Regions from separate parts of the Homo sapiens genome. Here region 2 is linked to region 1. The links come from fine-mapping of genetic effects on gene expression. A gene starts in region 1. The other region holds a variant in brackets. All regions are shown on one strand. Distances are between the middles of the regions.

Region 1 (12,182 bases):
ACAAAACAGGAAAAAAAAAATTCCATAGTTTATGGGACTTAGAACACAAGACTGAGAAACGCTTACCACAAAATTGTCTAATATGCATGAACACAAATGAAAAATGTGGTAACTAATCTACAAGTTACTAGTAGCCATACTTGACAAATTCATTATTACAGGTCTTTACATCTTAAAGAATCTGATCTTTAGTGTGCCATTATGAATCTCAAATATTAACAAGCTAAAAAGTCTAAATCTAAAATAAATTTAATCAAATATCTTACAGAACTGTAATCAAGAAAACTAAGAGCTGGAATTACTTTTATTGTATTTTATTTTGAGACGGAGTCTGTCTCTGTTGCCCAGCCAGAGTGTAATCGCGCGATCTTGGCTCACTGCAACCTCCACCTCCCCGGTTCAAGCGATTCTCCTGCCTCAGCCTCCAGAGTAGCTGGGATTACAGGTGCCCGCCACCATGCCCAGCTAACTTTTGTATTTTTAGTAGTAGAGACCGGGTTTCGCCATGTTGGTCAGGCTGATCTCATACCCCTGACCTCAGGTGATACACCCGCCTTAGCCTCCCAATGTGCTGGGATTACAGGCGTGAGCCACCACGCCTGGCCTCTGGAATTACATTTAGGTGTAGGATGTTTACTTTATCTGTATTCAATGATAGGTGAAGCAATTCAATCACATCATTCACACATAAATACAGTCATCCCTCCATATAAGCAGGGGATTGGTTCCAGGACCGCTACGTATACAAAAATCCATACATAAAGTCCCACAGTAGGCCCTGTGGAACCTGCGAATACAAAAAGTTGGCCCTCCATGAATACTCTATTTTCTATCCAAATTTGATTGGAAAAAAAAAAAAACTGCATATGTTTTCAGGCGTGAACTGTACTTAAGATTTTCCTGAGTTTGAGATCTTCAAATTTGAAAAAATATTAGTAAAGTAGACCTTGGTCTTCCATCTCTAAAAGTTCCATTATAATTATTTCCAGCCAGGAAGAAAAATTAGCATCACCACCACACTTTTTGCATGTGCTTTTGTTATTAATGTTATTCATTCATCTTCCTTGCCAAAATTCCCAGTATTATTGGGCCTGATTTCTTGCCATTAAATGCAAACACTTTTCATGTACTATGTTTATATACAAGGCCTTATGTACAAGAGTGCCTAAGTTTTAGCAATATAAGTAATGTCAAAAGACTAGTCTTTTCTCATCAGATGTACACTTAATCAATTTAGTAACCTGGATTGTTGTTACAGTTTAAACTTTTCAGTTTCAAGGCCAAAAAAAAAATTATTAGAAACAGAAATTCTGTCACAGTTCCCTATACTGGGATAAAACAATCACATAAATATTTTATCAAAAAATTATTAATTATCTTTAAATCAGCATTTCCTTTCTTCATTTCTATCTGTAGGTCTGCATTTAGGAAAAACATTTCAGAAGTGCCACAAAGAACCCACCACTTTACAGTAAATAAAGTTAGTAATTCAACAAATCTTATCACTCAGCCCATATGAGGAAAACAGAAAAAACCTGAGTAAAACAAGTAAAATTTTAATGGTTAAACACAATCTTTTCTAGACGGAATACTAGTAATTGCCAGCAGATTTATGGCACAGATGCTGATTAGCTATCTCTTCTGAGAAAAAGATGGTTTTTTCCTCTCCTTGAAAATTATTAGCCCTACTAAAATCTCAGAATTCACTATATAATTAGTCCACGTAACCAAAAACCACTTGTACCCCAAAAAGCTGTTGAATTTTTTAAAAGTCCTAAAAAGTTTTATCAAAGTAGCTGAAACTTTTTTTGTCTAATTATCAAAAATTATAAGCAAACGATTTGCTAATACTTGAAATGCCCCCAAGATTTTGCTGTAATAATTTGTCATCTCAGTGCTTTTTCTGGAATGCAGGCCTCATGAAAAAACACTTGTAAAATGCCACATGGCATTCAACAATTAGTAAAATCTAGTTTCACCAATATGATGCACATTTATACATTTTGACATCTCTTAATGGAGTCTTAAGCAGTGTCTTAACTGGCAGCATTTTTTTTTAGTGCTACATACAATAATGGTACCTTTTACAACAAATGGCATCTTAGGATGCCATGGAAAACAGTAACTTGGTTTCTCAAAACCACAAGTTTCAGCCCAAAAAGATAGTTTGCCCAGCATCTCATTTTACAGATGATGAACATGAAAACCCAACTATATGATGTTCCCAACGTCATAAAATCAAGAGCAAAAGAGGCCAGGTGTGGTGGCTCATGCCGGTAATCCTAGCACTCTGGGAGGCCGAGGCAGGACTCTGCCCAGGAGTTCGAGATCAGCCTGGGCAACATAGGTCCTTTCTCTCTAAGAAAAATTATTTATTCAAAAAAAAAAAATCAAGAGCAAAAGAGACTGAACTCGGGTCTTCTGGCTCCCAATGATGCCCTTTCCATTAAACACCGTGCCTCCTGAAGTAAATCAAATGAAAAAAACTGCCTGGGTTTAACCAACATCTAACATACATAAAAAGCATATCACGCAGGAGCCGTGTGCGCTTATGGCCTGAATCAAAAGTCTCAGATTGACTCAAAAGTAACAATTTAACAATCCACTGTTGTGTTTGTCTTTGGTAAGATGTATAATGAACTACAGACTTCAGAAATGAGAGCTTCCCTTAAAGCAGGGATTTCATCCGGTGCATTACAATGACTCAGTACAATCTCACTTGCATCTTCTTCCCTCCCCACCATTCCCCGCAGGGGAAAGACCCCCGCAAGGAGAATGACAGGCCCACCTGGGGCCTAAACTCCATAGCTCAAACAAGGCTGGGCACTCATTTATCAGCACTAGAAACTTCGCACATCTTTTCCAGTCTAAGAACTACACAATTTACAGGTGGTTGGTATGTGAATCTCTCTCCTTGCAGGAAAAACTAAAGGAACCCGATGAACACAGTGACACCCGCAGTTTGTCAGCAGGACTCGCTAGCGATGGAGCGTCTGGGGAAGAAGCCCCACGGCGGAGGAAAAGGTACCCGAGACAACGACACGTTATCTGGGCTCCGGGGGTTGAAGCACCAGGCGACGACGCAGAGAGGCGTCGCACGAGAAGCCAGTGGACCTGCGACACGGCACTCCCCGTGAGGTCCCTTCAGCCACCCTCTCCATCCCCCAAGTGGGAAGAAGATGGGAGGTGGGGGCTGGACGCGCGGAGGCGGGGACTGGGGGGCCTGCCGGGCGGCGGTGGCGGCTCCGCTCGGCGGCCGCAGGAGGCCATTTTAGTTAAGGGGCCGCTGAAGGGCCCTGAGGCCTCCACGTCCCTACACCTCCGCCGTCTCTACCTCCCCCCTACTGGGGGCCGCTCCCCGCCGCGGGCCGGGCCGGGCCGGGCAAGGCGGGGCGGGGCGGGGCGGGGCGGGAGAGGCCGCCGGGCTGGGCCGGGCCAGGCCTGCAGCGGGCCGGGGCTCTGGGATGGCTGGGGACGGGCGCGGGGGCGTCGCATCGACAGGATCCGGACCGAGGGGAGAGCAAGGGGCGAACAGAGAGAAGGCAGGATGCCGTTACCTATATTGGGCCGCAGCCGCCGCCGCCGCCGCCCCGCTGTGGGTGAATCCAAAGTAGTTGCCGGTCGCCATTTTGGCATCTTCCCCCAGCCGGCTGGGCACTGCGGCGGGCACGAAGAGTCGGGTCCCATGGCGGGACAAGAGACACAGAGGAGCCGAGACGCCGAGGGAGGGCAGGGAGAGAAAGAGAGAGGCGCCGTGAGAGCAGCCCTGGCGGGGCCCAGGCCGCGGCCGCGCCGCCTCCCCCTCCCGCCTCGCACTCCCTCACTCACTCGCACGCCCGGGTGGCGGCCGCCGCCTCCTCCCCGGAGCCTGCCCCAACCCCCGCGGCTCCCCGCTGCCCGGGGCCAGGGAGGGGGCCGGGCAGAGGCCTCGCGGGCCACATTAGACTCACCATAGGTGAAAGAAACTACAGGGCATATGGGAATCATGGGCTCGGGCTGCTGCTGCTGAACTCTGAACTCTCACCCGCTGCCTCCCTCCTCTGCCCCGCTCCTCCTCAGCGGAGAACAGACCGCCGCCTCCGACCGCACTGCGCAGGCGCGCCTGTGCTCGGCATCCTGGGAGCTGTAGTCCCCGCCGTCTTCGCGGCTCCCCCGGGCGCGTGCCGGGGCCTCGGCGGTGCGGGCGCGGGGAAGCCCGCGGGGGAAGAGGGGCCTGGCCTTCTCCGAAGTGGTGGTGACGCCGCGCGGCCGCGGGGCGACGGGGGCGTGTGCCAGAAGCGCCTCGCCTGTCCTCTGGGGAGTCGGGGAGCGTGACCAGAGAGAGTGACGTCTGTTCGCCTTTTTCTTTGCTTTCCACTGGCTTCCTTAACTTTTGCATGTGCACTTATTCCCTGCCTCCCTGTCTTCCTCGCTCATTAATTTTTCATTGGAATTCGAGCTGGGCAATTTAGGATTTTTCCTTATTTCCTGCTTTCCCGCAGCTTTTCCCCAACCTCTGAAGTGCGGAGGGAGGGAGAAGGAGAGGAGAGAAATAGAAAAAGGATGGAGAGTGCTTTTCTGTTGGACTAAAAGCACACCCTAAACATCCCTCCCGGACATACCTCTTGCTATACCCTTTCCTCGACCTGCACCCACTCCCTGAGCCATCCGGCGTATATCGGTCACCCAGCAGGGTGTCAGGCAGTGTTGTAGGTGCTGGAGATACGGCAGAGAACAAAACAAAGTCCCTGTTCCCGTGGAGTTTACGTTCTAGGAGCGGGTATATGTCAGCCAACAGCCGGTAGCCAAAACACAGAAATTCTGTCTGATGGTGACTGGAGCTTCAAGCATAAATAAAGCAGAGTAAGGAAAATAAGGGTAAGGGAGGTGCTATTTCATGTAGAGTGTGGTTAGGGAGACCACTTGAAGGAAGGAAGGACAGGCCTGGGAGATGCCTGCAGGAAGAGCAGCAAGTGGAAGGGTCCAGATGAAGGAATGAATGTTCAAGAGCAAGAAGATCAGTCTGGCTGGAGTCAAGTGAGAGGGAGACCAGATCACGTGCCAGATCTTTAGTGGTAAGGACAGAACAGTACTTGCCCCCATGTAAGCATTTCCTCTTTCCCTCTGTTTCCTCGCTTTCTTCCCTTTAGTTTCTCAGTTCGTTTTCAACCATTCTCTTTCCTCTTCCAGTCCCTCTTCTGATCGTCTAGTTTCTCTGGCCTTATGTTTCGTGTCTTCCATCAAGTACATATGTACTGCCTGCATTTCACCTCTTCCTTACCTTCTCCATGCCCATCCCCCAGACTCCCTGCTCCTCATCTCTCCTCATTGTTGGATATGAACATTAAAAGGAAATGCTGGCCGGGCGCGGTGGCTCACGCCTGTAATCCCAACACTTTGGGCGGCCGAGGCGGGTGGATCACGAGGTGAGGTCAGTGGCCAACATGGTGAAACCCCGTCTCAAAAAAAAAGAAAAAAAAAAAAAGCCGGGCGTGGTGGCGGGCGCCTGTAGTCCCAGCCACTCAGAAGGCTGAGGCAGGAGAATCGCTTGAACCCTGGAAGCAGAGGTTGCAGTGAGCCGAGATCGCGCCCCTGGACTCCAGCCTGAGCGACAGAGCGAGACTCCGTCTTAAAAAAAAAAAAAAAAAGGAAAGGAAAAAAAAGAAATGCAAAGGGTGAATCAGAACCCACCCATGAAATTCAGGGCTTTGTCCTACTTTCTTGTGCCAGAGCAGAAACAATGCCTCAATTCTTTTTTGTGCCAACCTTGCTCCCCACGCCTCCTACAAAAGTACAGGCTCTCAGAACCTGTCTGATTTGTCCTGTTACTCATTTCAGAAAGAGAAAATGTAGAACCTTGGAGAAAAGTTAAGTGTCATTATTTTTGAGAATACTGATGTTTTCCCAGGCAAAAGTTATTTGTGCCCCAAGGATGTTGCTAGGAAGAAATACCTCCTACACATAGGACATTAGAACTGTATTTTAAAGGTATTTTGCCTTGAACTTCATTGAGCAGTCAAGCTTCAAGACACTGACTGTAACTGCTTTGATGAACCGGCTCTATTAGTTACTAGGCTATTTGAATAAAACTGGAGGAGAAAAGACAGGTGTTGATTACTTGCCTAAAAAGAGTCTGTGTAGGCCAGTTTTATGCTTGTTTGCTTGGCAGGCCTTTGGAGGCCGGCGTGCTACTGGCACACCCCAATGAGCAAGCACATAACTAGAAAGAGGAAGACGGGGCCTCTCCCCTGGTTCTTAGGGGTCAAAGTAGGTGTGGCAGTAGTGAAAATTATTTACAACAGCACTCTCAAAGATGCAGCCTGTAGGAACAACCTTTCAGTATCGCACCTACTTGCCCTTGACTTGGGCTCCTTTAAGGAAGGAGTTTTGGAGGGTCTTGAATATTTTTCCTGGGCATCTAGTAGTGGAGTAACCTGAACATGTTATTTAACCTATCTGAACCCATACGGCAAGAATAACAATAACATCTTCCTGATGGGACTCTGGTGGGGTTTAAATGAGGCAGCATTTATGTAAGACATCTAGTTTTTTTTGTTTTGAGATAGGGTTTCACTCTGTCGCCCAGGCTAAGTGCAGTGTTGTGATCTCAGCTCAATGCAGCCCCAACCTCCTGGGCTCAAGCAATCCTCCCACCTCAGCCTCCTGAGTAGCTGGGACTACAGGCACATGCCACCATGCCCAGCTAATTTTTGTATTTTTTGTAGAGATGGAGTTTTGCCACATTGCCCAGGCTGGTCTCCAATTCCTGAGCTCAGGCGATCTGCTCATTTCGGCCTCCCAAAGTGCTGGGATTACTGGTGAGAGTGAGCCACCATGCCTGGCCTAACGCCTAGCTTTTTCATGTAAAAAGACTAGGCTAGATGATTGTCAGTTCTTTATTTTTATTTATTTATTTGAGACAAAGTCTTGCTTTGTCACCCACGCTGGAGTGCAATGGCGCGATCTCAGCTCACTACAAACTCCGCCTCTCAAGATCAAGCAATTCTCCTGCCTCAGTCTCCCAAGTAGCTGGGACTACAGGCATGCGCCACCACACCCAGCTAATTTTTGTATGTTTAGTAGAGAAGGGTTTCACCATGTTGGCCAGGCTGTTCTCAAAGTCCTGACCTCAAGTGATCCACCCACTTGGCCTCCCAAAGTGCTGGGATTACAGGCGTGTGCCACTGTGCCAGGCCGATTGTCAGTCTTTTAAAATCAACCTTCTAATAAGTGAATGCATTGTGCAAATCACACCTACAAGTCAAAAGTAGGTGGCTCTGCCCTGGAAGAGTTTATGTTCTAGAGTACCCGGTCTAGGCAACATGGCTGTACGTAGTCTTCTGGGTCAACAATTAAAGATGAAATACTTGACCAGAAGCAACCAATTATAATAGGGATTGTCATCCTTCATGTCCAGAACTGGTTTGGTATGCAAATCTGATCAAATCCTCTGTGCTTTCATCTCTCAGGATAAAGCAAATTCTTCCATGTGGCCCACGAGACTCTGTGGCCTGGCCCACCTGCCTTTTCAGCATCTTCCTCCTTATTCACTCTATCCCAGCTATCTTGGCCTCCTGTTCACCATGCTCCCTCCCACCAGGGGGCTTTGCATGTTCTCCCTGCCTAGAATGTTCTCCCTTCTTCCCTTTACCTGGTTTACCCTCATGCTTGGGGATCGCAACTCATTCAACCCCTCGTGACCTTGATGGGTCAAACCCTTGCTATGCTCTCAGAGCACCAGACATCTCTTCTTAGTTGCCCTTGTCACAGTTGCAATCTTATACTTATTGTGTGATTATATGATTAATATATATTTCTCTCTCGCATCAAACTATAAGCTTCACGAGGGCAGGTTGCCAGTATTGGGTGCCTGTTGGTAGGCACCCAATAAGTACTTATGGAATGAATGAACCACGCTGTGCACAGTTTAATCTTTCTTTCATGATTCAGAAGGTAGTTCAAGAACCTGTAGTGCCTCAGGGTCATAATTATGAACCTCAATTAGGATCTGAAGGTAAAAGAGGAAATGTCATTGGCAGTCAATTAGCCACAAGGTAGAGCTAGCCTGACAAAGCCAGCCCCTAAACTCACCAAAAATAAATCTATAATAGTTGTCTTCCGTCACACCTTTGAGTCAAGGTGTGGTATCCTGAAAGACCTTGATAAAATACGGATAAATTAGCCAGAAAGGACATCATACTAGCTACTCTATACCAAGAGGAGTATAGTGAGGTGAATAAGAGCAAGGACTCTAAAGCTGGACACACCTGGCTTCAAATCCCAGCTCTGTCACTTTCTGCTCTGTGACCTCAGCCACAATCTCTCTGCTTCATTTTTCTTCCTCCTCTGTAAATAGAGAGGTAAAAGTAGTATCTTCATCAGGGGATTGTTGGTAGGGGTTAAAGACTTCCTAGATGTAAAGCTCTTAGATCAGTGCCTGGCTCACTGTAAGCACATTTTCATCATCTCATAATAAATCCTGTACCCATTAGCAGTCACTCCCCATTTCTACCTCCTTCCAATGCCTAACAACCACAAAATTACTTTGTGTCTCTATGGATTTGTCTATCCTGGACATATAAATGGAATCATACAATAATGTGGCCTTTTGTGTCTGGCTTCTTTCACTTAGCATAATGTTTTCAAATTTCATCGTCCATTGTTTGGATATACCACATTTTATTTATTCATTCATAAGTTGATGGATGTTTGGGATGCTTCCATTATTGGGCTATTATGAATAACATCACTATGAACACTGATATGCAAGTTTTTGTGTGGACAGATGTTTTCAATTCTCCTGAGTATATCCCTAGGAGTGGAATTGCTGGTATACCTTTTTTCCCCCAAACTCTCTGAATAGCTGAAATTCTTTTCCTCTCTACAACCACTACTCTAGTTCATCTCTTGCCCAAGCCGACTTCAACAGCCCACTAATTGGTCTCTCTTCCCAGTAATCTAATCCTCTCAAATCTGTCCTCTACACAATGATCAAGGATCTAAGATTAAAAAAATAAATAAATAGGGCTGGGCGTGGTGGCTCATGCCTGTAATCCCCGCGCTCTGGGAGGCTGAGGAGGGTGGATCACCTGAGGTCAGGAGTTCAAGACCAGCCTGGCCAACATGGTGAAACCTCATCTCTACTAAAAATACTAAAATTAGCCTGGCATGGTGGCGCACACCTGTAATCCCAGCTACTCGGGAGGTTGAGGCAGGAGAATTGCTCCAACCCAGGAGGCAGAGGTTGCAGTGAGCCAAGATCGCGCCACTGCACTCCAGCCTGGGCAACAGAGTGAGACTCTGTAACAACAACAACAAAAAAAGTAGTAGTAATAACAGTGTACATTATAATGCATTGTCTCATTTATTCTTTACAAAAACCTACAAGGTAGGTACTATCATGATTATCCCATTTAGAGATAGTAAAAGTGAGTTCATAAGGGTGATAAGTGGCAAACGCAGGATTTAAACTATACCTACCTGTTTCCAGAATGCCTGACCTCTGCGACATACTGCTTCCCTGAAACACATCTGAACATGTCATTACCCTGCTAAAAATCTCGTAAAGATTCACACTTGCCTAAAGTAAGAACACGTCCTATTACTGGTGGGTCACTAGAGTCACCTTTGTGTTTCCAGTTTTAGTGCACATGGCTATTTTTCATTTATGAACTCCTAGAGCACTTACATTATTGGCTCTTTAATTATTTCATTCCAGGGCATCCTATAGTTCCCATTTTGTAACACTCATCAGACTGGTCATTTCTTACTCAATATCTCTCTTCCCCCAGGAAAGAACATGAACTCCACAGGGTCAGGAACCATGTCTGTTTTATCTGCCAATGAATTTCCAATGCCTAGAGCCATTCCGGCCGAGCATGGTGGCTCATGCCTGTAATCCCAGCACTTTGGGAAGCCGAGACGGGCAGATCACTTGAGCTCAGGAGTTCGAGACCAGCCTGGGCAACATAGTGAAACCCTGTCTCTACAGAAAATACAAAAACTAGCTGGTCATGGTGGCATGCACCTGTAGTCCCAGCTACAGGAGGCTGAGGTAAGAGGATCCCTTGAGTCTGGGAGGTGGAGGTTGGAGTGAGCCGAGATCATGCCACTACACTCCAGCCTGAGTGACAGCGTGAGATGCTGTCTCAAAAAATAAAATATTAAAAAGAGAGAACCATTCCAAGAACACAGTATGCACTTAATAAATATTTTGGGGATGAATGAAATTAGTCTTGTGTCCATTTTTTGAGGGTAATGGTTTTATGATATAGGTCTTTAATATCTTTCTTCCCCCTCCCCCAAGTACCATCTGACATGGTACCAGCCACAAATGCAGATGCCAACCTATTTTAGTCCTTGCAGCTCCCTTGACATTCTAGAAAATGCTATTTGCTACCAAGCTTGAACCCCCAACACCAATGTTATAAGGGTTTCTTTGTGTCAGTAACATATTCATAGGAACCTGAAGAACCTACAGGACTCAAGGCAGCCATAGGAGTCGCTGTTTAGCAGCTTGGAGAAGAGTCTCAGCCACACTGTGACCTGATTTAGAGCTTGATATGATTATCAATGGGAGATGCTGAAGGACATATTGGTTTAAAGCCCACACTCTAGATCAACACTGTCCAATAGAACTTTCTTCAAAGATAGAAATGTTCTCTCTCTGCACTGTGCAATATGGTAACCACTGGCCACATGTGGCTATTGAACACTTGAAATGGGGCTAGTATGACAGCAACTACATTTTAATTTAATTTAATTTTAAAAACCCTAGTTTAAAAACCGCTAGTACATGGCTAGCGGCTACTATATTGGATAGTATAGTACCAGAGTCAGATGACCTATGTTCAAATCCTGGTTTTACTACTTACTGACAATATGACTTTGGCGAATTTACTTAACCTTCTCATGCCCTGGTCTCATCTACAAAACAGAAAAAATAATAATAGTACTAACCTCATAATTTGACATGAGGATTAAAAAACTAAATACATATTTTGTACATGAGCCCATCAGGCTAGCACTAAGGTGGCTGGGGAAAAAGGCTGACTGTTGCTAGGCGTGTCAGCTGTAATCCCAATGCTTTGGGAGGCCGAGGAGGGTGGATCGCTTGAGCCCAGGGGTTCAAGACCAGCCTGGGCAACAGAGTGAGACCCTGTCTCTATTTAAAATAAAATTGTTTTTAAAAGGCTGACTGCGGCCAGGCATGGTGGCTCATGCCTGTATTCCTAGCACTTTGCGAGGCCAAGGTGGGCAGATCACTTGAGGCCAGGAGTTGGAGACCAACCTGACCAATATGGTGAAACCCCATCTCTACCAAAAATACTAAAAATTTGCCAGGCATGGAGGCACATGCCTGTAATCCCAGCTACTTGGGAGGCTGAGGCACGAGAATTGCTTGAACCCAGGAGGCAGAGGTTGCAGTGAGCAGAGATTGCGCCACTGCACTCCAGCCTGGGCGACAGAGCGAGACTCCGTCTCAAAAAAAAAAAAAAAATAAAATAAAAAAATAAAAATAAAAATAAAAAATAAAAAAGGCCAGCTTTATGCAGCAGCAACATCATAGACAATGGGGTTTATCTGAAGTGCGATTATTGCTAATTGAGAAAAAAAATAAAGGCTGACTGCCATCTATAAAACAAGTCATCGGCCCACCTGATTGATGAAGTGCCCCCTCCACTGGGAACACTCTCTGATGGGCATTTACATGGTATATCAGTTTCTTATCGCTGCTGCAAAAGATCACCACAGAATTCCTGGCTTAAAACTACACGTTTATTATCTTACAATTCTGTAGTTTAGAAGCCTCACTGTGCTAAAATCAAATTGGCAACAGGGGCCGGGCATGGTGACTCACTGTAATCACAGCACTTTGGGAAGCTGAGGTGGGTGGGGTGGATCACTTGAGGTCAGGAGTTCAAGACCAGCCCTGACCAACATGAAGAAACCCCGTCTCTACTAAAAGTACAAAAATTAGCCAGGCATGGTGGTGGGTGCCTGTAATCCCAGCTACTCAGGAGGCTGAGGCAAGGAGAATCGCTTGAACCCGAGAAGTGAGGCTGCAGTGGGCCGAGATTGTGCCACTGAACTCTAGCCTGGGCGACAGAGTGTGACTCCATCTCAAAAAAACAAACAAACAAAACAAATTGCCCCCAGGGATGCATGTTTGTCTGTTTGTTTTTTCCAGCTTATAGAGGTTG
Region 2 (12,182 bases), 180 kb after region 1:
ATAAACAAAATTGTGGAAACTCATTCTAGTCAAAGATCCTAAGATGGTCATTATTTTGCCAGAGGATGGTAGCAAAGTTACAATCAGACCTTGAGTAAAAATTTTCAGTCTCAACACCCAATATAAACAGACCAAACCAAATGAAAACAAAAAACAAGAACAAACTAGGAAAACAATGAAATGACACCTGTTTATTGAATGATTTTTATCTTTTAATTTCTATTTTTAGAACTCAGTATTATTTACAGAAAAAAGCTATAAAATAAGAATGACCTCTGAAGTTTGATAAAAGTGAATGACTATTAAAACATTCTCTAGGAGTCAAAGGCTCTTTATCAACCTAAATTTCTACCATGTCAGTAGTACTCCCTGTTGGAATTGGAAATGAAATTAATGGCAAACTAACAAATTCACAACATTCTATACATTTTCACAGTGGTATGTCATTTGTCAAATTATGTTACTCAACACATTCTCCAATAGGAGAATACTAGGAAAGATACTAAGATCCAATAATTAAAATACTCTCTTGAGACTATCATGATTAAATTATAAGATACTGGAGTAAAGCGATGACAAGAAGAACCTAAACAAATACTTTATTTTCTTGCTTCCATTTTCACCCCTGTTCGTATTGTTCCAGCATTCCTTCACCTCCTTTTCCAGTGTTGTTGTTGTCCACCCAGTGCTGTTCATTCATTCAACTTCAGTTCATTCACTCATTACTTACCCTTTATTGAGCCTACTATGTGTCAGTCACTGTTCTGGATGCCGGAGAAATAGCAGTGACCAAGACAAATAAGGAGCCTGCTTTAACCTAGCTTGCATTCCAGTGCAGTGCTATCCAACAGGACGTTCTGACAGTGATGATTGTACTGTGCTGTCCAATCTGTATCCACTGCCACATGTGGCTGCTGAACACTTGGAGTGTGGCCAGTGGCCTTTCTACTGGACAGATAAGTTTTGGTGGATGACAAAGACAACAAGCTACTAAACAAATACATGGAAGAATTTTGGAAAATGATAAGTGGTTCAGAGACTTTAGGAGTGGAATTGTTGGGTCATTGTTGGTCATGCTAACTCCATGCTTAATATTTTGTGGAACTGCCAAACTGTTTTCTAAGTTGCTGTACCATTTTACATCCATGTCAGCAGTGTATGTGAGTTCCAATTTTTCTACATCCTCACTTTGAGATTTTCAGAGGATACATCTATTGCCTAAGACCTCATATAACATAGCTTTTAGACATTTTTATGAAACTGAGTCTAAGTTTTGCTATCAATTGACAAGTTCCTGGTGTTTGAATTCCTCTTTGCTATGGACATGAATGCAAAGGCCAGTCCCATATGAAGTCATTCGTCTTATTCTTTAAGGTTTTCCTTCAGGGATGACCAATTCATCATAGAGTTTGGTGAGCAGGGTAGGGAGGGGACACGTCTTTGAGCAAGCTCAAGAGAAGTAAGTCTAGTTGTTTAGAAAGAAAGCAGATCAAAGTTTTAGAACAACATGTCTGGAAGGATTACCTTCTAAGATGTACTTCTCTAGCTCCAGTATTCTCTAATTTATGTAAGAAACTCACAGGTCAACCAATCAAACCTCACAACTGACCAAGGAATTCCTTATTCTTACCTGCTTTTCAGACTGACTTTTTGTTTTAAGACTTATTTTTTTTTTTAGAGTTTTAAGTTCACAGCAAAATTGAGAGGAAGATAAAGATTTCTTATATGTCTCCTGCCCCAACACATACACAGCCTCCCCCATTATCACATCCCCTACCAGAGTGGAGCGTTTGTTATAATCGACGAACCTACCCATTGACACACCAACATCACCCAGAGTCCATGGTTTTCATGAGGGTTTCCTCGTGGTGCCATACATACTGCGGGCTTGGGCAAATGTATAATGACACGTGTCCACCATCATGGTATCACACAGAGTATGTCCACTGCTCCCAAATCCTCTGCACTCCACCTGTTCCTCCCTCGCTTCCCCCCAGAATGACTTTCTATTTGAACATTTGAGACAATGGGAGGTCACTATAGCTTCAGGAGACAATTCTATCTTTGGAAGTCTGTAATTTTCCGAATGACTCTCTATATATTGAGCTGTAGTTTGTTGCTCCATAGAGTCACCTTAGTTTATGCTTTAGGAGCTAAAAAGGAAAGGTCAACTCTTCTTTTCACATGAGGACCTGTCAGGAAACCCACTAGTGCCCTGGAAAAAATCCACCCAAGGTTCTCCAGGAGGCCATGAGGAGGAAGTCTCCCTGCAGGCTGCTCCATTGCCGGCGCATTTCTCCCTACGTCCTCCTATTAGTGACAGTTGTCATGGTCTCCTTTGCCTTATGGGGAGTCATATTCCCCTGCCCCCCCACCCCAGCTTCAATGCTCCTTCTTATGTCCCTTAATTCCCCACAGCACAGCCAAGACCAGAATAATTCCCTGCCACTGTTTGTAAGGTTTTGGTAATCACAGTGATTTGCAGCCAAGTCTTGTGCTTGCTTTTTGGAGGTCTCAGGCGCATTCGAGCCACACAGGCGTCCAAGGAAAGAAGAGGGCATGCGCAATGATTTTATTCCAAACCCACTTCTCTTTCAACATCTGCCTTGCTCCCATCCCTCTCGCAGCTTCTGATTGAGGCCAGCACAGTGTGATCACTTGATCCAAAGGGAGAGGCAGGTGCTGCAGACTCAGGCCACTGTTTCCTCTTGGGCTCAGGGCGGGTAACAGACCTGGGGGTACTGAGGAGGTGGGAGCCTCCTCCCTGTAGCAGACGGCACAGACTGAGGGAGCGAGTCCTCACCAGCCTACCTGCTCCCCCTCTTCTCAGTCCCATTGTAGTTACTTTTTCATATACGTTTTTTCTTGATTTGGCATGGACAAGGTGAAATCCAGTTAGAAACCTGAGCGTAGTTGCTGTTTCCAAAAGGAAAATAAATAATAAACTGAAAAGATGAAGAAGAGAATTGGGTAAAGGAAATATTTATGAATTTTCTTTTTACACGTGTCTGTTTGCAGGTGAAAGCTACATGCTGGGAAGGAGAAGCATGTTACAGCCATGGCATCTCTCAGCAAGCGTTCGCACTCAGCCTGGCCTTTGGCAGGAGCGGACTTGAAAGATTTTTTCTAGGCTTAAAATCCCATAATTCTGTTTCCACAGAACACAATTCCACAAACTCCTCTGGCAACAGAACTTCAATTTCCAAAGTTTCGCAAGTCCTACAGTCAGGAAATTTCATGGAAATCCTAGCAAAATCAGCTGTAATCCATGGTACACTTCCAAGCATGTCCACAGGGCAAGCTCCCCTTAGGGTGCGGGGATGTGCACCGTGAGGAGAGCCAAGTATTAAAGAACATTTCTCTGCATCGATGAACTTAATCAATCTGAATTCTGGAATGTTTTAAGGGAAAGATGAAAACCTCTAAAAATGAAATTCGGGAAGCTGCATGTGCTTTGCTTCACGGTTGCAGGGACTCCCTGAAGTCAGGAACGGGGAGACAGCTCTCAGGGAATTAGGGTGCAGTAGCAGTGCCCACTGGCTAGTACAGATGCCAAGTCTCCACACCAGGGCATTGCGGAGACCCCACCTGCCTTTCCAGACACTAGCGTGTTTCAGAATGCCTCAGAATTCATCCAGACGCCTTCGTGGTGTACTCCTGGTGTTTGCTTTCAGAAATGACTCCATTTTTCACAAGAAGATAGATAGCTTCGTTTACTTGTATAGTGTTGTCTTATAACGTCCTGACCGTGACATAAGCATAGGATTTGAGTTTGGGTTTGAGCCTTGGCTCTGCCACTTGTTGGCAGTGGGGCCATTGTCAAGTTGCTTAGCTTCTCTGAGCTTCAATTTTCTCATTTGTGGAAAAGGGATATTAGTAACAGTATCATTAAGGGAATAAGTGAAGTGAACGATTTATCATGTCTGAGCATATATAGAAGATGCTATGTAAGGGATTATTCTTGCTTTTCTCCTTCTCAGTGGGCCTATGACAATACAGTAAGACAAGTGGGTAATCAAACAAATTCAATATGTGGGATAACCAGCCATATTTCCATATTCGCCAGTGCTCAGGAACTCATCCTCCAAGTCTTCACTGGTTGTAATTTGTTTTATAAATCACCCAGAAGGAGTTGAGAGGAGAGGTTTTGGTTGTATTTTGGGAGCAGAAGGGCACAGTAGGGAAAGAGCTTCTGTTCCAAGCATTTTAATGCAAACACAAGCACCACACAGCTGCTGGAGACCACAGCCCCTTCTCACACGGCGTTGGGAAGCCTTTGAGCCTGCCTTTGGTCTCTGCTCCTCCCTAAGCACTCCACTGTGCCTTTGGGGCTGTTCCCTTTACTGCTATTGCTCCCTGAGGGTCCCTGCCTTCCACTGGCATCCTAATTGGGCTCTGATTCTCTCAGGAAAAGCCTCAAGATCAACTCATACCTTCTTCATAGAAATTCCTTTTGTCTCTTTCTCTCAGGGATTTGCTCTGTTTGCTAGGCCAGTCCATAGAGTACGTATCCGCAGTTGAGCCCAACAAGTGAGAAAGGGCCCATGTATTAGACGTCTCCCAGGAACCCTCTGTGCTTTCCACAAGTGTCCTCCATGATCTCAAATGATTGGAAAGCAAGGTGGCAAGCAAGTAGAGAAGGAAGGCTCTGAAGATCAGTTACTTTGGGTCCTCTTAAATTTCAACATATAAATTACTTCTAGTGATTTTCTGTGCCCTGGGCATTGGGAGTAGAAGAGAGAGGAAAGGAGTTTGGGGAGTTTTGAGTTGTTTGGCTCGATCAGCTTCTCTGCTCAGTAAGATACAGAGTACTGATGGTATGCAAGGACTCCCTAAAGAGCATCTACAATGAAGGTGCCTATTCTGATCCCGAGGAAAATAATAACAGACTAGCATTTGCATGTGGTTAACAAAATCTTTCAATCTTATAATCTCTCATGGTCCAGACCAGAACCGTCCTATAGAACTTTATGTGATCATTTTACATTTAAATTAAAAATTCTGTTTTGTGGTCACAATAGCCACATTTCACGACCTCAGTGACCATGTATGGTTAGTGGCTACCCTACTGGACGCTGCAGGTCCAGACAGCAACTGTGTAAATGTGGGGTGGGCATTCCTGTGCTCACTTGATCTACTAATCAAGCTCTTGGTGAGGCAGGAGAATGGGGTCTGGAAGCGGGGAACATAAGGCGATGCAAGCTGACTTCCTAGAACTAAATCAAATGGAAACACTTCAGCTATGACAGGAAATATCCTTTCCATTTACATAGGGCATACACTGAGTAAATGACTTGTAACTTTACTTCATCCTCTTCATTTACATAGAGTGTACACCAAGTAACCAGTGGAAACCTCTAGAGGGTATTTAAACCCCAGAAAATTCTGTAATGGGGCTCTTGAGCCCCTGTGCTCGGGCAACTCCCACTCTATGGAGTGTACTTTCATTCAATAAATCTCTGCTTTTGTTGCTTCATTCTTTCCTTGCTTTGTTTGTGCATCTTGCCCAATTCTTTGTTCAAGACGCCAAGAACCCAGACACCCTCCACCGGTAACATTGGTGCAGATAAGAGGTCTTGGGCTCATCAGCCTCCAGGAAGCAGACAGGGAAAGAAAAGGAATGAGGTGGCCAGGGAGCTGCAGGAGTGGCAGGGACTGGCTCAAATTGAAGAGGCCATGCCTGGTTTAAGGGGGCAGCTACTGTTCGGCCGTTTGGAAATGCATGCCCAGAGATGCCAGATCTTTCCTTTTTTTGTTTTCTTTTTTTTTTTT[TG/T]ACATTGATAATGAATTTTTAAAATGTTAACATTATGTAGGCTAATAAAAAAGAACAAAAAACTAAAAACCTAACCACATTGGAGCCCTATAGCCACTGAAGTTCAAATTCTGCAGATGGACCAAACCATTGCACCTAAAACAGCATCTGTGGAATCAGCTTCCATGAAGACAAGGGGATTGTAGGAATATTGGTTGTAGGAGGATAGAACCTGGGTTTGAGTTTCTTCCAGAAATGGGCAGAACAAGTAGACTGTGGTAGGGGTCAAACAAACAAACATACCAAAAATCCTTTTTGTTGTTTATTTTAGGAGTCAAAGTCAAGAGATCTTCAATCTACACACAGGCTGATAGAGAGCAGTGGTAGGGATAGGCCCCCAAGTATGAAGGAGCCCGAATTAGGTACAGGGATTTCCCCAGTGGTCTTACGTTTCAGCGTGTCATCATTTCACGGTTGTGCTATGATTCTTCCACAGGTAAGGAAGAGGAAAATTGTTTCTGTGCTCCAGTGCACAGACAGTTGTTAGTTGCTCCCGAAATTTTCATTGTAAGACCCCAAAATCATAGCATAGGAATACATCTTGAAATAAAAACACAAACATTTCAATAAAAGGAATGGATGAGGGGAAAATGATTTAGTTAGTTACAGAGATGTTGATTATCTTAATGAATAACCATCCTTTTGGTAGGTGATAAAAGTTATTACATATCCAATCCATTGTTCTGACCTACAAAGGCTAGAAACAGTTTTCAACTTATCAGAAGTAAAGATCATTGTACAGAAAGTATCTGTTTTATTAATTCAACACTGTAAACATTTGCCATGTCTTAAAGTTCAAGTCTCTGTAACCTCCTGAGGTCAGGAGTTTGACATCAGCCTGACCAACATGGTGAAACCCTGTCTCTACTAATAATACAAAAATTAGCCAGGCATGGTGGCACTGTAGTCCCAGCTGCTCAGGAGGCTGAGGCAGGAGAATCGCTTGAACCTGGGGGGCGGAGGTTGCAGTTAGTAGAGATAGCACCGTTGCACTCCAGGCTGGGTGACAGAGCAAGACTCTATCTCAAAACAAAAACAAAAACAAAACAAAAAAAATCAAAAATAAAAGTCATAGGATTAAAAATGGAATATGTAGCTTATTGTGTAATACTGTAAGATACCACTGAGGTGTTTACAAATACAAGAATTAAATTCTCGTTCAGAATGCTGATGTTTTCTGGAAAAGGAAATGCTGTTAAACCACAAGCATGCTACCATCTTTCCATCGTGTGGTCCCTTCCCTCTTGGAACCTTGGAGCATGTGCTGTATTTTGTTCAAACTATCACTGTTTGTTGAGATGCCTTTTTTCCCCAGGGTGGTCAGTCTTTGGGAGAACTTGCATTAGTTCGTGGATATTTTAAGTTTTAATGAGCACTCAGCATACAGCAATATTACTCCAGGGGCTGGGGAATTGCTTTCTTTTATTTACATATTACTTATTAGATTTCATTTAGGAAACAGTAGTGTCTGTAAGTAATTATCTCCCACCCCCAATGTTATAAAAAATAATAACCAGGTCCTTCGAAGTTAATGTTAGTAAGACAGTGTCCTGCGGGGAGGAGCAGCTGGATCTCATAGCCTGGTGTTTGTCCCCCAAGGCTCGCGGTCCTGTGGAGGATCTCATGTGCAGTCCTGCCACTGCCTCCACCCTGGGTGGAGTAGGGATGGGAGTGGGGACTATCATTTCCTTTTGAATAAAGCTGATTTAAACAGAGAAGCACGGGTCTTTCACTAATGCCTTAGAGCCCAGCCCAGCCAAGGCTCTGTTATTCAGGAGAGGCTTTCCTCAAAGCTATGGAATGACCAAAGGCAGAGACTTACTGATGGCACCAGGGAGCACAGTAGCCTTTGGACAAATCTTCCCTGTTTATGGTTCACTGGTGAGAGCTTCCTCACTCCTCAGTTCCTGTGATGTTGAAGATACCTGAACCTGCCAAGTTCTAGCCTGAGAGAATGCCTGAGCTCCCTCTCCCTAGTTCCCGTTCTCCGCCTAGCTGGTTACACCAGCTGTGACCACCCACCCCTCTCAGAGTAGGCCATAGTTGGCCATGGAGGCAGAACTCCAGCATGACAAACATGCCAGAATGTCCCTGGACATTTAGTAACATGACAGCCCCTTCCCAGGAGTCATCACTACCTTGTACCATCGATGTGGCTAAGGGGTGAGTCACGTGTGTCTTTCCAGCGTTTGAGATTAAGTATGCTAGGCCCTGTTTGTGGAATACGTAGTTCACGTGTCACCTTTTTATCTGGGCCCTAGGTGATCTTTCCTTTCAACATCAGCCTATTCCCTCTTGCATCCTTCTTCCCACATGACAGACATCCAGTGCCTCCAATAATGACATCAAAAGGGATGAGACTGAAAAACAGATCAGAACTTGCTTGGATAACCTATTTTTCCTAAGCACTAAACAACATTAGACAACATGAAAATCTACCCTAAAACGCCTATAGGCTCACCCATAGTTGCAAGCAATAATGAAAGGTCTAAAAATATTTACACTTAGATATTATGAATATTCAATCTTTGTAACATTTTTTTTTAAATTCTGTTTTCATACTTGCATTTTTATCTACCAAATAAAAATCGATAGAAAATGTTTTAGTTCATGAAAGAGAAACTTGGCCAAAAAAAAAACAAGTTCTCATTAATTTTTGTAAACCAACTGAAGCTATAATTCTCAGCCTCCTGCTGTCACTCTTTACAGCAGGTCCTCAGTCTGAGGTCTGGGGAGACAATGCTGGTTTCCAATCCAGTTCCTGACTCTCAGTGCTCAGGATCTGCTTTGCACATTCCCTTTGAAGAACTTAGACCCACTCTCTGAAAGAGAAAACTACAGAAACACGATAGACGAGACCCCGGGCAAGGCCGAGGTGATGGGAAGGTGCGGGAAAGGCAATGAGTGGGGAGGGGATAGGATACAAAAGGATAGGCCAGGAAGACAGAGGAAGAAAAGCCTGATCAAACAGATAACATTGTTTTATAGGGAGAGGACATTAATCTTGGAGATATACGATAAATCCTTTCATATGTAGTATAAGAACAATGATGACAGCAAAAGCCAGGAAGGCAGACTCAGTTTTTCTTTGAGTGTTTAATTTCCATGGTTCCAGTTTGGTGTATTTGAGCACGATGATAGCTGTGAGCAAAATCTTCTCAATTCACTGATGTCTTGGAATTAAAACAAGCCTCTGCATCATTCTTTCACCCAGTAAGCATTTGTCAAGGTCCACTTGTGAGCATAGTGCACCAGAGAGGTCCTGAGGGATTGAAGAGAGGCAAGTGACGCTCTCCCCGCTCCAAAAGGTTTATGGTCAGGACCTCTGCTGGGATGAACAGTTCCTTGAAGGAGCCCACAGCAGGTGGTTTAGCTTAGTGGCCTTGGTAGGGAGAAGGGCAGCTGTGCAGTTAGGAATGAATTGGGGTTGTGTGTCTTGCAGGACCTGAGCTGCTGGGTGGTTTACAGCTATATGAAATTGTACGTGAAGGGGAAAATATGGCGGTGTGGATTCCTGGCTTCTGCAGGAAATAGCCAGAAAGCAAGTTATTTAGATGACTCAATGAAAACAAGAAATGGAAACTCATGCTTCTTGATTAAATGTGGCTTATTCACAGGGGGATGAGGCAAGGAGAGGAGAGAAAGGGGAGAAAAGCATGCATGTGCACATCAGTGCAAGCACATGAGTCTAAAAGGCAGATGGGATTGCCTGGAAAGGGAAAACCTCAAGGTGAATGCATCAGAATGGCCTGATGATTACAGAAAAGTTCTAACACGATGCCTAATGAATCTACAGTACCTCTCTGGGAAAGACTCAGAGGACTTTGTGAGGTTATGAAATTAATTTGTATTAAGTGTGTATAACACTCTAAAACACATTCCAACCTCAATGATCTCTCTTCTGCTATTAATTTATTCCAGCTCTTACTAAACTATCCATGGGAATCCTCCCATCCCCCGTTTAACAATTCTTTGAATCCTCAGGCTTAGCTAATTCTTATTTGATCTGCAAGGTGGCGGTGTGTAACAGTCAGTAGATGCCACTGTCTAATAGTGAAGGTGTCCACTCAACAAGCTTGTAGGTCAGAAGCTTCAGGTTCCCTTTGATGGATTAGCTCCCTGCTTGGTCGGCTGTGTAAGGTCTCAAGTCTGTGCATAGTATTTACTTAAGTCAGTGATGTAGCCACCTCTCCATTTCAGAGATGACGTTAGTGATGTGATTTGCCCTGGGTCTGTGATCATTGCTTTCACCGGCCTCTGGCTGCAGCACATTGCCTCATGCACTAAGAAGCCACAGTTGCCCTTCAAGGCTGATTCAATGGCATTTCATGGTATCTAACCCTGGCCCACTGCCCTCTGGACTTAGATCTTCAGGTTGTGTCCAAAATCTTAGCTCGGAAGATGGAGACAGGATCAGGTACCACATGGTCTTGAGTGTAGGAGCCAGTCTGAATGTGTCCTGTCACTTGATAGCAGACAGACACTCTTCATCAGCTACTCAGGACTCCAGGCGCCAGGAAGTAAGTTGAGGTCAGGGAGTTTGTTTTATCTACTGATTTGGAAAAATATTTAGCCTCCCTGGAACAGAGATGTACATTCCGTGTGCCTGAAGCCATGAAATTTGGCAAGTCTCATATCAGATACCTAAAACTGTTATGCAACTCAGTCTAATTTACATTGTAAGGCTGCCAGAGGGAACTAGATTTCTCCCTTGGTCTAAACGTCCCCTCTGACAATTCTAAGGGCCCAACAATTGATATCAATCAATCAACAATAATAATAATAATAATAGTAATAATGATATACCTTGCCCATATTTGACCTACAGTTCAAGGCCCATAGCTTTGGATAATCAGAAGTTAGAATTTGGCTCAGAGGGACATGTGAGTGACTTATGCAATACTTTGGCCATTTTACAAATGAAGACAAAGGTGTCTGACAGTGTGAATTAGAATGAAAACATCTCCCAAGCTAGCGTTTCTTCCACAATGGGCTCTTGCTGCAGAAAAGAAAAGCTATCTTTCTTGTCATTTTTCACCAAAGAGGCCATTGCATGTCTGATAATTTTTCTTCAAAATTGTTTCTTTTTATATTTAAATGCTTATTTTTTCCTAGCCGCTAGACCACCAGGGAAAAATTGTTTTCAAAAACCTTAATTCTGCTACTTAATTTTGCATGGTATATGTGAATCTGCAAAGGCAAGCACTTCAAACTGTGCTGTCTGGGGAAATAACACTTGCAATGGAAAGGCAAACTCAAAATCAGTGTGTCTAGCACTTACCTTTCAAATGATTAATGGTAATTGTGGTGTGTGTATGTATATGGGTGCAGAACTGTCAAAGAGCATCCATTTTAGATTAAACAGCTCTGGGTTCAACTTGAGGCTCAGCAAATTCTTCAGTTTTCTTATCTGGATTTTCTGTTCAACACACCAAAGTGTATTCTGTGAAATGTTAGTTTTGCAGAATAGGAAAAAAAGATCACAAGAAAAAAGGAAATCACAGTTAAATAAAAGAAGTTCAACTGGCTTTTTAACCATAGGGTCGCTCAGAGGCTTTAAGATATTAAAATACAATGTGACTCTCAAAGAAGGAACAACATATAAATTAAAATGCAATGAATATCCAAGAGTTTCTCAAACTTACCTGATTATGGACATTTTTTTTTTCATAGAGCCACTCATGAAACTGATGAATTTAGGGAAATCCTACATTCCTCCGGACTTGGGTTGCAAGTAATGAGACCAAACACTAGCTTAGGCAAAAAGAGAAAACCATTTGCTCCGGTCACCAAATCAAAGTCAGGACAAGGGTAGAGATAGCCTCCTGGACAACTGGAGCAGCTGATAATAATTAATATTTATTGTGAGACAACCATGTGCCAGGCACTGTTCAGCATGCTTCTCATGCATTAATTCATTCAATCCTCACAACAGTTCCATGAGCTAAGTACTATCATTATCTTTTACAGAAGAGGAAACTCAGGTTCAAAGAGGTTCAGTTTCCCAAGGTTACCTAGGCAGTCTGACTCTGAGCCCACACTTGGAACCACTGACCTTATGCTTCTCCAGGGACTTAAATGCTGTCAAAGTTTATTTTTCCTGCATGACTCTTGCGTCCTTGGGTCTATTTAATTCTCTTCAACCAGCTTTCCCCATGAGACAGAGACCTGGCTCCCGCCTGTCAGCCTGCCCCCTACCTCCTTCCCGGGAAAGGGCTCCTCTTCCAATTCCTATTAAAAACATTCTGGGCTGGGTGCGGTGGCTGATGCCTATAATCCCAGCAGTTTGGGAGGCCAAAGCAGGTGGATCTTTTGAGGTCAGGAGTTAGAGACCAGCTTCTACTAAAAATACAAAAACAAAAACAAAAAC

Evidence for each region.
Region 2: its variant is fine-mapped to the expression of ZFR in monocytes after Pam3CSK4 (Quach 2016, PIP 0.95).

Annotation. Positions count from the first base shown.
Region 1 is chr5:32,440,672-32,452,853 of GRCh38, forward strand. ZFR (zinc finger RNA binding protein) reads right to left here and starts at 4,069. Exons shown (of 20, transcript NM_016107.5): 1 at 3,951-4,069; 2 at 3,558-3,657. The coding sequence starts at 3,987. RefSeq lists silencers at 3,112-3,451, 3,682-4,371 and an enhancer at 3,163-3,720.
Region 2 is chr5:32,618,272-32,630,453 of GRCh38, forward strand. No RefSeq gene overlaps it. Among named protein-coding and RNA genes, the nearest start is that of LINC02061, 28 kb to the right of the region's middle. The variant TG/T (reference allele first, on the strand shown) is at 5,773.